Regions from separate parts of the Homo sapiens genome. Here region 2 is linked to region 1. The links come from fine-mapping of genetic effects on gene expression. A gene starts in region 1. The other region holds a variant in brackets. All regions are shown on one strand. Distances are from middle to middle. Region 1 holds the start of KLKB1 (kallikrein B1). Region 2 overlaps CYP4V2 (cytochrome P450 family 4 subfamily V member 2).

The links. PIP is the estimated chance that this variant, and not a neighbour inherited with it, causes the effect. A credible set is the group of variants that fine-mapping cannot tell apart.
Region 2: its variant is the best candidate, but not a certain one, in a credible set for the expression of KLKB1 in lung (TOPMed, PIP 0.71).

Annotation. Positions count from the first base shown.
Region 1 is chr4:186,224,877-186,230,265 of GRCh38, reverse strand. KLKB1 (kallikrein B1) reads right to left here and starts at 2,759. Exons shown (of 15, transcript NM_000892.5): 1 at 2,679-2,759; 2 at 2,013-2,071. The coding sequence starts at 2,070. RefSeq lists an enhancer at 3,582-4,252.
Region 2 is chr4:186,194,638-186,200,026 of GRCh38, reverse strand. It overlaps CYP4V2 (cytochrome P450 family 4 subfamily V member 2), which reads right to left. Exons shown (of 11, transcript NM_207352.4): 3 at 3,939-4,024; 4 at 2,897-3,087; 5 at 2,425-2,494; 6 at 944-1,070. Among named protein-coding and RNA genes, the nearest start is that of CYP4V2, 5.8 kb to the right of the region's middle. The variant C/T (reference allele first, on the strand shown) is at 2,040.

The sequences.
Region 1 (5,389 bases):
TCCCTGAGATTAGCAAAAATGAAAAATTAAATAACCAGTGTTTGTATACTGGTTTTGATTGCAAATGATGGAAAACCTAGTACAAAGTGGCTTGAAAACAAATGAAATCTATTGGTTCAGGAGCCAAAAAGCCCATGGTGAATCTGGCTTAAAAAGTAACTGCACATTGTGCTCAACTGATAGCATCAGTGGACAATATGTCTCCTTCCACTTGCTCCAGTCTTGGTGTTACCATTACTCTCAAGCTCCACGTAGTAGCAAAATAGTACCAACAACTCAGGCCTGTGTATTGTCTTAAGTTTCAAGTCAAATTGGAAAAAAAAAACATAAGAGTCTTATTTCTAGATGTCTAAAGAAAAGCTTCATTGCAAGACGTTGGCTCTGATTGGGTCACCACAGCCAGGAGGATGTGTGCACTTTCTGGTTCAGCAGAAGAATCAGGGTCACCAGAACCACATGGACCAAAACTGAGAGGCAGTAGCTCTGCAGAAATAAATTAGGACACTGTTTCCAGAAAGATAAATATGTCAGGATGCAAAGCAACAGAAGCCTGTTAGAGTTGGCCTAAGTGGGGTAAATGAGCACTCTTATTAGCTGGTAGAAAAAGTCAACTATGGAGTAAACTTTCTGAAACCTAATTTCATGATACCACACCACAAAACCTTCAAAAATATTCACACCTTTGAATCTAGTATTTTTATTTCAAAAATTGTATTCTACAGAAATAACTGAATAAGAGCATAAGAATGTGCACACAAAAATACCATAAAAAGAGAAGAATAGCAAGCTCCAAAATATATTACTTATTTGCACCAAAAGATAGCTATAAGTGGAAAATGCAAGTCAAAGAGTGTCCACAGTTAATAACTCTTTTTTGTGAAATGTGCAAATAGGTATATGTAGAAAAATATCTGAAAGACTAAATAAAAGATGTTTAACGATGACTGTTTCTGAATTTGGGGACTACATGCAATATGTAGTTTCTAAATTTTTGCTTACTTACATCCCTGATTTTCCTAGCCATAATCATGATTTATTTTGCCAAAAAACAAAACAAAACAAAAAAATGAAAAACCCCCTGTAGTTGGCTGTGGTTCCCAGTGTCTCTGGCTTATGCTCCTTCTCACCTTTCAGTGGGTTTGCACATGGGTTTGTAAATTACGGTTTAGAAGAGAAATCAGGGTTGAGGGACAGACACAGGGGAGTTGTGATTTAGGGGGAATAAAAGTCTTTTTTCCTGGAAAAAAAAAGGTCTCTTTATGAATGTAAACCTTACCTATAGATGTTTATTGTAGCCATACATCTGAGGAAAATTAAATACTCATTGTTGTGTGGCCCTCTTAAGTCACCATAGACCCAGAATCATGCCTTGTGGGGACACAGAGAAAACTCCCTCTGTAATGATTAATGAAATGTCCAGAATCATTTTTATTCTCCAAAAATTAATGAAATTAATAGAGAAATGAGATCTAAATCTGGTGTTGAAAGCTATTCACCTAGAACTATCCAAATGCATGGTTTGCTAAGTTAAATTTAAACCAGTTACTTTCATTTTTGAAATGGTTCCCTAGCGGTCCAGAGTAAAACTATGTATGGTGTTCCTAACAGATACTTGGATTGGACCCAGACACTATAAAATGCCTAGCACTCTTTTGAATTTTCAGATAAAGTTTAATTTTTTACTGTTGATAATAAAAATAGAGGACTAATTTTTTTTTGTTTCAAGTTTTGCTTTGCAGAGTGTCATCTGCGAACAGAAGTTTTTGTTAACACAAGTCCCAAGACATTCCTACTTCTGAGCTCCTTCCTCTGGTCTGCAACATATGTCTACAGCAATATACCTGACAAGTGGTCCTTGTTGTGGAACATTAAATAGACACGTGTCCTGAATCATCAGGGACAATCTCCACCCCCGAAGCTGTATGTTCAATAGCTTTCTCCAGGGGTGGTGCCACTTGCTTGGCTACTCCTGTCTTAGCCTGAATTCCATGTTTTATAGATAATTCACTTACCACAGGAAACTGTAGCAAACAAGGAAATGAAATAAGTTGCTTGCTTGAATAAAATCATTCTAAAAAAGAAAACAATACATAACTCTGCTGGTTTTAGACCACATTTAACATAAATCTTAATTTAAGGTGATTTAGATTTTCTTGTAAATGTCTGAATTGCAAGACAAAGCACACAATTACTGGTATAGAAAACAAGGGTTTTTTTTTGGTACATTTGTGTCTAGGGAGTTGGAAAATTTATAATGCTTCCCAAGATACAAATTGAGACCTCCAGACTACTGTTGTGTTTATTGTTCATTGGCCAACTCTGTGGCTAGTAATGTTGGAAAGGGAATTGGTAGAGAGAGAGTAAACAATTATGAAACCTCTTGATTTGGGCAAAAACAAAATTAATAAATAATGGCAATAATGTCAGTCCAAAAATCCCTAAGTAAAGAAAACCTCTGAAAATATTAAAGCCCATTTAAAAATTTTAAATCAATCAAATATTCTTTCTGATTTAAAATCATCTTACATTTAAATATTTCTACATAAAGGAACATTATCTATACTCTCTACATACTCAGGAAATTAGAATATAAATGATTAATTTTCTCATAAAGTAAAAAATTATACTTAAAAATTATAGTTTATTTGGAAACAATCAGAATAATAAAAATTTGCTACCTGAAAACACAATTGCTTCTTGGAGGTGAGTCTCTTGTCACTTAAAAATGAACGGTCTTCAAGCTGTTCTAATGTGGCACTGCAGGCAATATTTTGCTTGGCTTCAATATTGACTTTGGGTTTCTGCCAACAGTTTCAACTTTTTGTCCTGTCAACATATTCCATGAACATCCTATCCGTGTTCAGCTGTTAAGTATATTAACTATTTCAGGGAGTGATGTCAGCAAGAATAGGAATAGGAGTTTGTCAGAACAGGAGTTTCTAGCGCTCATCCCTTGCAGAAACATCAATTCGAACAAGTATCCATGCACGAAAATAACTTCACTAGAGCTAAGGAATCAGGTGAGAGGTTATGCCACCTGGTTGCAGCACAGAAATAAGAAAAGACACATAGAAGTGTATAGGAAGGACAATTTCACATTACCGGTGTCATCTCACCTTCAAGCCTGGGCAGCACAGTATGGAGAGAGATGCCCTCTTGCATGGAGGAGGGACAGTTAAGATAGAACCTAACTTCACCACAGATCCCAAGCACCAAGCCCACTCCAGTAAACCCCAGCACCAGGATTCAGGCCTGCCACAGGCCAGACCAGCCTCTGTGGCCTCAGCCCCATGCTCACCCCAGACCAGGTCAGCCCCTGGGGCTTCAGGCTCCAAGATGGCCACACAAAACCTAGACTTCAGGCCTGCTCCAGCTCTAGCCTGGCCCCCAAGACTCTATCTAGCCTCCACGTTAGCCCCAGCAACCCCAGGCTCCAAGTTGGCACCCATGGGCCTAGAATCCAGGCCATCCCCTGCAGATCCAGCACCAGGTCAGCCTCCAGAGATCTTGGCTCCATGCTGGGCCATGTGGACCCAGATGCTGGGCTCACCCCAGTGGACCTTGTTCCCAGGACAGCCTGAATAAACTCAGGAACAGGCCTATCCCCATGAACTCAGGTGCCAGGTGATCCCCATGTTAGGCTGGCCCCTGCAGACGCAGGCTTAAGGCTCATTTCAGTGCCAAGTCAGCCCCCAAGGATCCATGCTTCAAGCCAGTCCTTGTGCACAGAATACAGACAACCACAGTGAATGAACCCAGAATCCAGCCCTTCCCACCTTAGAACTCCAGCAGAAATCCTGTGCATAGACCCCAACAGACAGCCCACCAACAATCTCTGGTCAATCTGACTAGTGAATGGCTTTCTCTGCTGAAGCTAGTATGTAAAGACTGAAATAGGTGCCTACTTCAGTGCAAGGCCACACTGATCACAAATAATCGGGGAAACAAGAAACCACCAAAGGAAGGAAATAAAGCAGCAGGAGGTGACCCTAAAGAAATGGAGATCTTTACTGCATGACAAGAGCTAAAAATAATTGCCTTAAGAAAGCTCAATAAGCTACAAAACAATATAGATAGACAGTAAACAAAATCAGGAAAACAATACATGAGCAAAATTAGAAGTTCAACAAAAAGATAGATAGGAACCATAAAAAAGAATGAAACAGAAATTCTGGAGCTAAAGAACAAAATGACTGAATTGAAAAAATTCACAAACAGCTTCAGCAGCAGACTAGATCAAGCAGGAGAAAGAATCAGCATGCTCAGATACAGGTCATTTGAAATTACCCAGTCAGAGTAATAAAAGGAATGATAAAAATTGCAGAAAGCTGACAAGACTTATAGGACACTGTTAAGAAAATTAATATGCATTAGAAGAGTTCCAGAAGAAGTAGAGAAAGAGAAAGTTGCAGAAACTTATTTAAAAAAATAAGAATAGAAAACTCTCAAAATTTGGAGACATAAATGAAATAAACATCCAGATTTATGAAGCCCAAAAGAACTCCAAATAGATTAAATATAAAGAGATCCTCGGCCAGGTGCAGTGGCTCATGCCTGTAATCCCAGCACTTTGGGAGGCCAAGATGGGTGGATCATGAGGTCAGGAGATCGAGACCATCCTGGCTAACACAGTGAAACCCCATCTCTACTAAAAATACAAAAAAAATTTAGCCAGGCGTGGTGGTGGGCACCTGTAGTCTCAGCTACTCCAGAGGCTGAGACAGGAAAATGGTGTGAACCCAGGAGACGGAGCTTGCAGTGAGCCGAGATTGCGCCACTGCACACTGCACTCCAGCCTGGACAACAGAGCTAGACTCCATCTAAAAAAAAAAAAAAAAAAAAGAAATCCTCACCATGACAAAGAGAGAATTTTCAAAGAAGCAAGAGAAAAGCAATTCTTCACATACAAGGGAAGCTTCATAAGATTATTGGTGGATTTCTCAGCAGAAATCATGTAGGCCAAGAGAGAGTGGGATGATATATTCAAAGTATTGAAAGTACAAAACCTGGCAACCAAGAATATAATATCAGGCAAAGCTGTCCTTCAGAAAGGAAGGAGACAAAAAGAATTTCCCAGATGTATTAGTCCAGTTTCACACTGCTGTAAAGATACTACCTGAGACTGGGTAATTTATAAACAAAAGAGGTTTAACTGACTCACAGTTACCCATGGCTGGGGAGGCCTCAGGAAACTTATAATCACGATGGAAGGCAGAGGGGAAGCAGACACCTTCTTCACAAGGTGATACGAGAGAGAGAGTGTGTATGTGCAGGGGAAACTGTCACTTTTAAATCCCTCACTATCATGAGATCACAGCACAGGGGAAACCACCTCCATGATCCAATCACCTCTCACCAGGCCCCTCCCATGTAATCCCATGTGGGGATT
Region 2 (5,389 bases), 30 kb after region 1:
GTGATCACACTCCACTGTGGCCAGCTCAGCCAACATTGCATTCATGGAACATCTACTGATTTATTCATCATTTGCTCTCTTGGGGGTAGGGTGTACTTCACCACAAGGACATAACTCCAATAGATTTTAACCAAAATTTACAGCAAAGAAAGGACATATTTAAACAGGCAGTTTTTTAATACACTGAAATTATAATTTGATGTATATTTTCAATTAAGTCTTGCTTTTTCAAAACACATTATTAACACAAAGATTGACATCCTATATTCAAAACAACATCACTATCTTCTGGTTATTTTTGAATTGGAAATAGAATACTAATATCTAGTTAGTTTTAATGTTTTCCATGTTAAGATACTGCTATCAATGCCCTCTGCCTTTGAAAATGACTGCCGAATCCAAACATTTTCCAGAAAACTCCTATACATAGATCTTTGTTCCTTTATTCTTTTACACAGCACCCTGTTTGTTCATAAGTGTTCACAGCTCATATCACATGTTGTAATTATGTGTTGATAGATCACCTCTCCTACTAGAATAACTTCCTTTCAGGTACGGACCATATACACATGTCCTACTCATTACTACATTTCCAACATTTGGTATGGTGGTTAGCACTTAGCGAGTACTTAATTAATATTTGTTGACTACATAATTGAAGTATACATTTTTATACTTAAGTATAATTTTTTATATGAAAAATTGTTTTCTATTATTATTCAAGTTTTATTTTCTGAGACATAGGCTCCATAGTCCTACACCGGGTATGTTAACAAAACATCAACATCATGGACTTACCAAAAGTTCTGGAAATGAACGGTGGGGATGGTTGCACAACATCGTGAATGCACTTAATACCACCAAACTGTACAGTTAAAATGGTTATAAAGGGAAATTTTATGTTATGTCTATTTTACCACAATTGTAAAAGTCAGGGACTTACACTGTTGGTAAAAGTATGTAGGATCTGAAGGCTCTTTTTGTGTTCCCATCCTTCTTTAAACATAAGGTACCAGAGATCAAGCCAAAGCCAGGGCATCTTTATTCTTCGAAATATCATCTCACTCATTCTATAAATGGGATAAAAATACATCAGCTGTTGTATCAGAAATGTGTATTTCTTGAGCACTTCTTTAGTACCTGGCCTTGATGAAGGCAATCGTGGGAATGACGATGATTGTCTTAGAGGCTACTAAGAGCTCCATGTTTTATGCTTAGCAGTGAAGGCATGGGCTATTACGCATCCCATGAAGCCTCAGAAAATAATGGGCTCTTTAAAGGAATGAAGGATTCATTATAAAACATCCTTACTAGATAGCCATTTGGTCTCTGCTTCTGCTTCTCCAGGGCAAGTTTCCCACTCTGCCTAGGACCTCTGCACCAGGGTTTGAGATGAAATCGGCCTCTTTTTAAGGTCCATCATTGGTCTGACCACTCCTCTGGAGTGACAGAAGACAACTGGCTGCCCTCTTCTACAAGCGAGGGCTCTCTAAGTACCCATCTGTCACTTGGCTGTCCCAGCACCTCCCTTTCATGTCCAGCCATAGAGCAGAAAGACCCCTATGTGATCTCCTGCAGGACCAGCTTAGGTGCCGGTTCTTCAGAAAGACCTTTCCTGGCCTCTCACTCTGTAGGACACTTTCTTGTTTTGCTCTCTGGTATCAATTTGATCTTTTCTTCCTGAGCAATTATTACAGTTCATGAATTTCTTTGTCCGTTGCCTGCCTCCTGTGTTATTCTGTTTTGTGTACTACTACAAAACCAGTCAGTACCCTGTGCAGTGATTGGAAAATCACAGATGCCTAATAAATATTGGTTAAAATGAAGTGAAATGAGCAGGAGACTTAAATATACTCAGCTCAATGCACTTCTCTGTACTTCATCAAGTCCTTGCCCTGCCTTTTAACAGGTGAATAATTGCAAGCAATTTTAGAGTAAAATTGACTGTTTCGATGACTAAAACAATACCTACTTGGTGCAGAAAATATGGGAAGAAGAATAACAACAAAAGGAAAGCACAAGAATGAGAAACACATACA[C/T]GAGACAATGAGAAACACTGCTAACATTCTGTTATAATATCTGCTAGTTTTTTTCTATGAATAATTTTTAAATATAACAATTATCATGGTACAGAAAACTGTTTATATCTTTCTTTTCTCAGCATCATAATGTAAGCATCATTATGTACAATATAATGTAATCTCAATGTTAGAGAATAATCATTTTAAATTACTACATAATCTAGATGTGCCATAATTTACATAACCTTTACTGCTTAAACACATGCTTACATGATGAGGTTAACTTCTAGTTTAATGTTTAATTTTGAAACCATAAAAAGATACAACGCAGAAATTGTTAGCAATAATTTTTAAAGCCTAAATCAATAATAATTGTTAAAATAACTGAAAGGACTCCATTTACCTATAAACTGCACGGACATACTCGGAATCATCATTACTTTGAGCACCAATATTCTTCCCCATAGCTGTTTCTATAAAATATGGGTGAGAAGCAACCATTCAATTCACGCACGTTAGTTATCTCGTGTTTATTTTGCAGCGGCAGACACTAAAGACGTACATCCTGCTTTGTCCTTGTATATTTCAGAATTCTTCTTCCTCCCTTTACCCTCTTCTCTTGTACGGTCCACTTCTACTCCCTGTTCCTGTTCTTCCTTCCCTTCGCCTCCCTGGGCAGTTGCTCCATGCCTGCCCCACTCACAGCCCTGGGCGTGGCTGCTGCTCCTCAGAAGGCCAGTGCGGTCGTAGAACCGCGCTGAAGAGCCCGTCACCCTTTCCCGTCCCCCCATTTGCCTTCCCGGTGGAGTGTGATTTCCTGTTTGGGCCATTTTCTCTTTATGCCATAAATTTAGAAACAGATCGATGAGACTCACCACAGATGATATCTAAGGCACAAAGAGTGATGTAAAAAAAGCAGTTAAATGCTTCTTGGTTAATGTGTTTTTCAAGTTTCTTAACCAATATATTTGCTTGTTCATTCATGATATCTAAGAAATCTTCCAGAATGGTAAAATGGAAAGTGGGTGTTAACATCTTTCTCCTGGAGCGCCATTTGTTTCCAGTACTAGAAATAAAATATGTGGTTACAAAAAATATATCTACAGAGAGAGAGAGAGAAAGAGAAAAGTAACATCCAAAACGATTAAAGCATAAATATAGCAAGTCAACAAAATTCTCCTGAAACAGCTTCATCTACAGGTTCTCAAATGCTTTTGGCAGAATGACAAAGATATACACATATCTATAAAATATTCATCTATAGTTACAAAATATGAGTATTTTGGACATTGTTCTATACATGTTTAAAATAGCATTCATAAAATTGAAAAATTTAAGAATTTTTCTCAATTTCTAAGTTCCGAGTTTCTAATAATAAATTTATTTCTCCTTCCATCAATACCTCAGTCCTCAGATGATCCTCACACTCCATGGTTCTACCTTGATCTCTCCCCTCTCCAGTTCTCCAAAGTCCCTGCTAGGCTCCTGCCTTGCTCTTGTGGGGCCCTCTCTCAGAGGATGGAGCCCTGTTTCTAGATACCAGCTCACTGTACTTCTCTGGGGCTGACCATCTTTTTGATTGGATTTTCAAGATTTCCCTGCTCCAGACACTCCTTTGCTTTACTGTGTCCTCCATCCCGTCCACTCCCGTCCATCAGGACCTCCTGAGTCTTCCTGAACACTGGCGACAGTCGCTATTGAATACCACAGCTGAAGATAACTGTTCACCTGGACTCTTGGCCTCTTGACGGGCAAAGGCCAGCTGCCAGCTGGACCTTCCTTTCCAGCCTTTCTCCTCCTTTCTGAGAGAACAGTCCTGCTACAGAAAAAGCTACCCTGTGTTAATTCTTGAAATAACAAGTTGCACGTAGAAGTAACCATTTCTATAGACAGCTTTACAAAGGTACACTGGCATACCTTGTAAGAAGTCCTAGGCCAAGCCATGGTTCTAAAAACTTGTACATAGAGGATTTGTCAATTTGCTTTGAACTAGTTAAAATTACCTTAGGAAGAGAAAAACATACTTTAGAGACATACAGACATCAAACAACCTTCCTGTAATTATAGGAATACTGGCTAGAATACAGCTAGTTTTTAGGGCATTCACAACATTTATTTTCTCCGTCGTTCATTTTCAGTCCTGTGCCTCAAAGACATTCAGTTAGAGTTTTGAACATAAAACTGGCATTCAGTCTTGGGGACTCAATGGAGTTGGGGGGAAGAAAGATGTCCCAGATGATTCTCTGGTTCCCGCCATAAACCAGGAACCAAGTGGAGTTATTTAATGTGGGGAGGGGGACAGTGAGGTGGGAGGAGGCGAATCTGGAGGGTGGGCACATGTGGGGAGATGGAAATCATAGGTGTATTTTCAGGTGATGGTAACTTTGAGGCCTTCAGGTTGCTGTGGTCTGAAAGCAAGTGAGACAGCCAAGATAAGGCCTGAGCTGGAGATGCCTGTTCGGAGTGTCCCCAGCATAGAGGCAGCAATGGAAGCCATGAACGTGATCGGATCACCCAGAGTCCACGTGAAGTGGGAGGAGGGATGGGGTCTAGGGCTGAGCACAGGGTGCCCACCAGGCTTCTTGCTCAAGTCCCCTACTCTGGACAGATCTCCATCTGCATCCACCACACCAACTTCTATTAACACTAGGCCAACAGCGGCAGAAATCCTGTCTGCCCTTCTTGCTCTCTTCTCTGAGCCAGGATTCTGGAGAAGCAAGAGAAACTCCAACATTTTCACCATAATTAGAAAGACATGTCCTGGCACTACTTCCTAGGAAATTCAGTCTTTAATTTTGGTCGATGAAGAGAAGCTCTGTTTACCCCATCTTTGTTTCCTGACCCAAATCCTTTTCTCACCATACTACAAGATGATTTCCCCAGACCTTTCAACAAGTAAAAAGACTACAGCTTTTTGGAGGACTAATTTCAACAGCATGGGTTTGTAATATTTATCCCATAAATATCAAATTTGCATTGTCTTTTAAATTTGGACTAAGTTTATCATTGATATGAGACCCTGAGCAACTTGAGGGAAACATATTTTATTAGTCATATATTTTTGAAGTCTTAAAATAGCGTCTGGTGGATAACAAGTGCTTGCCTTGCGGAATAATTTATTTGTGTTTCTAAAAAACGATATCCTTTCAAAAAAAGAATAAATATAAAGGGACCTGATAGCAGTTGTGCACTTATATCTGGAGAATGTTAATCTCCCAGGATTCGGGCTATACCTGGAAAGCATTAAATTGCACCTATATAGTCTAAAATACTTAGTGGAATGTTTTTTGTGCTGAAATGGCTGAAATATAAGGACACGTTATATTGATTCTGGTGAGATTCTCACACTGTCAGATACACAGTACAAT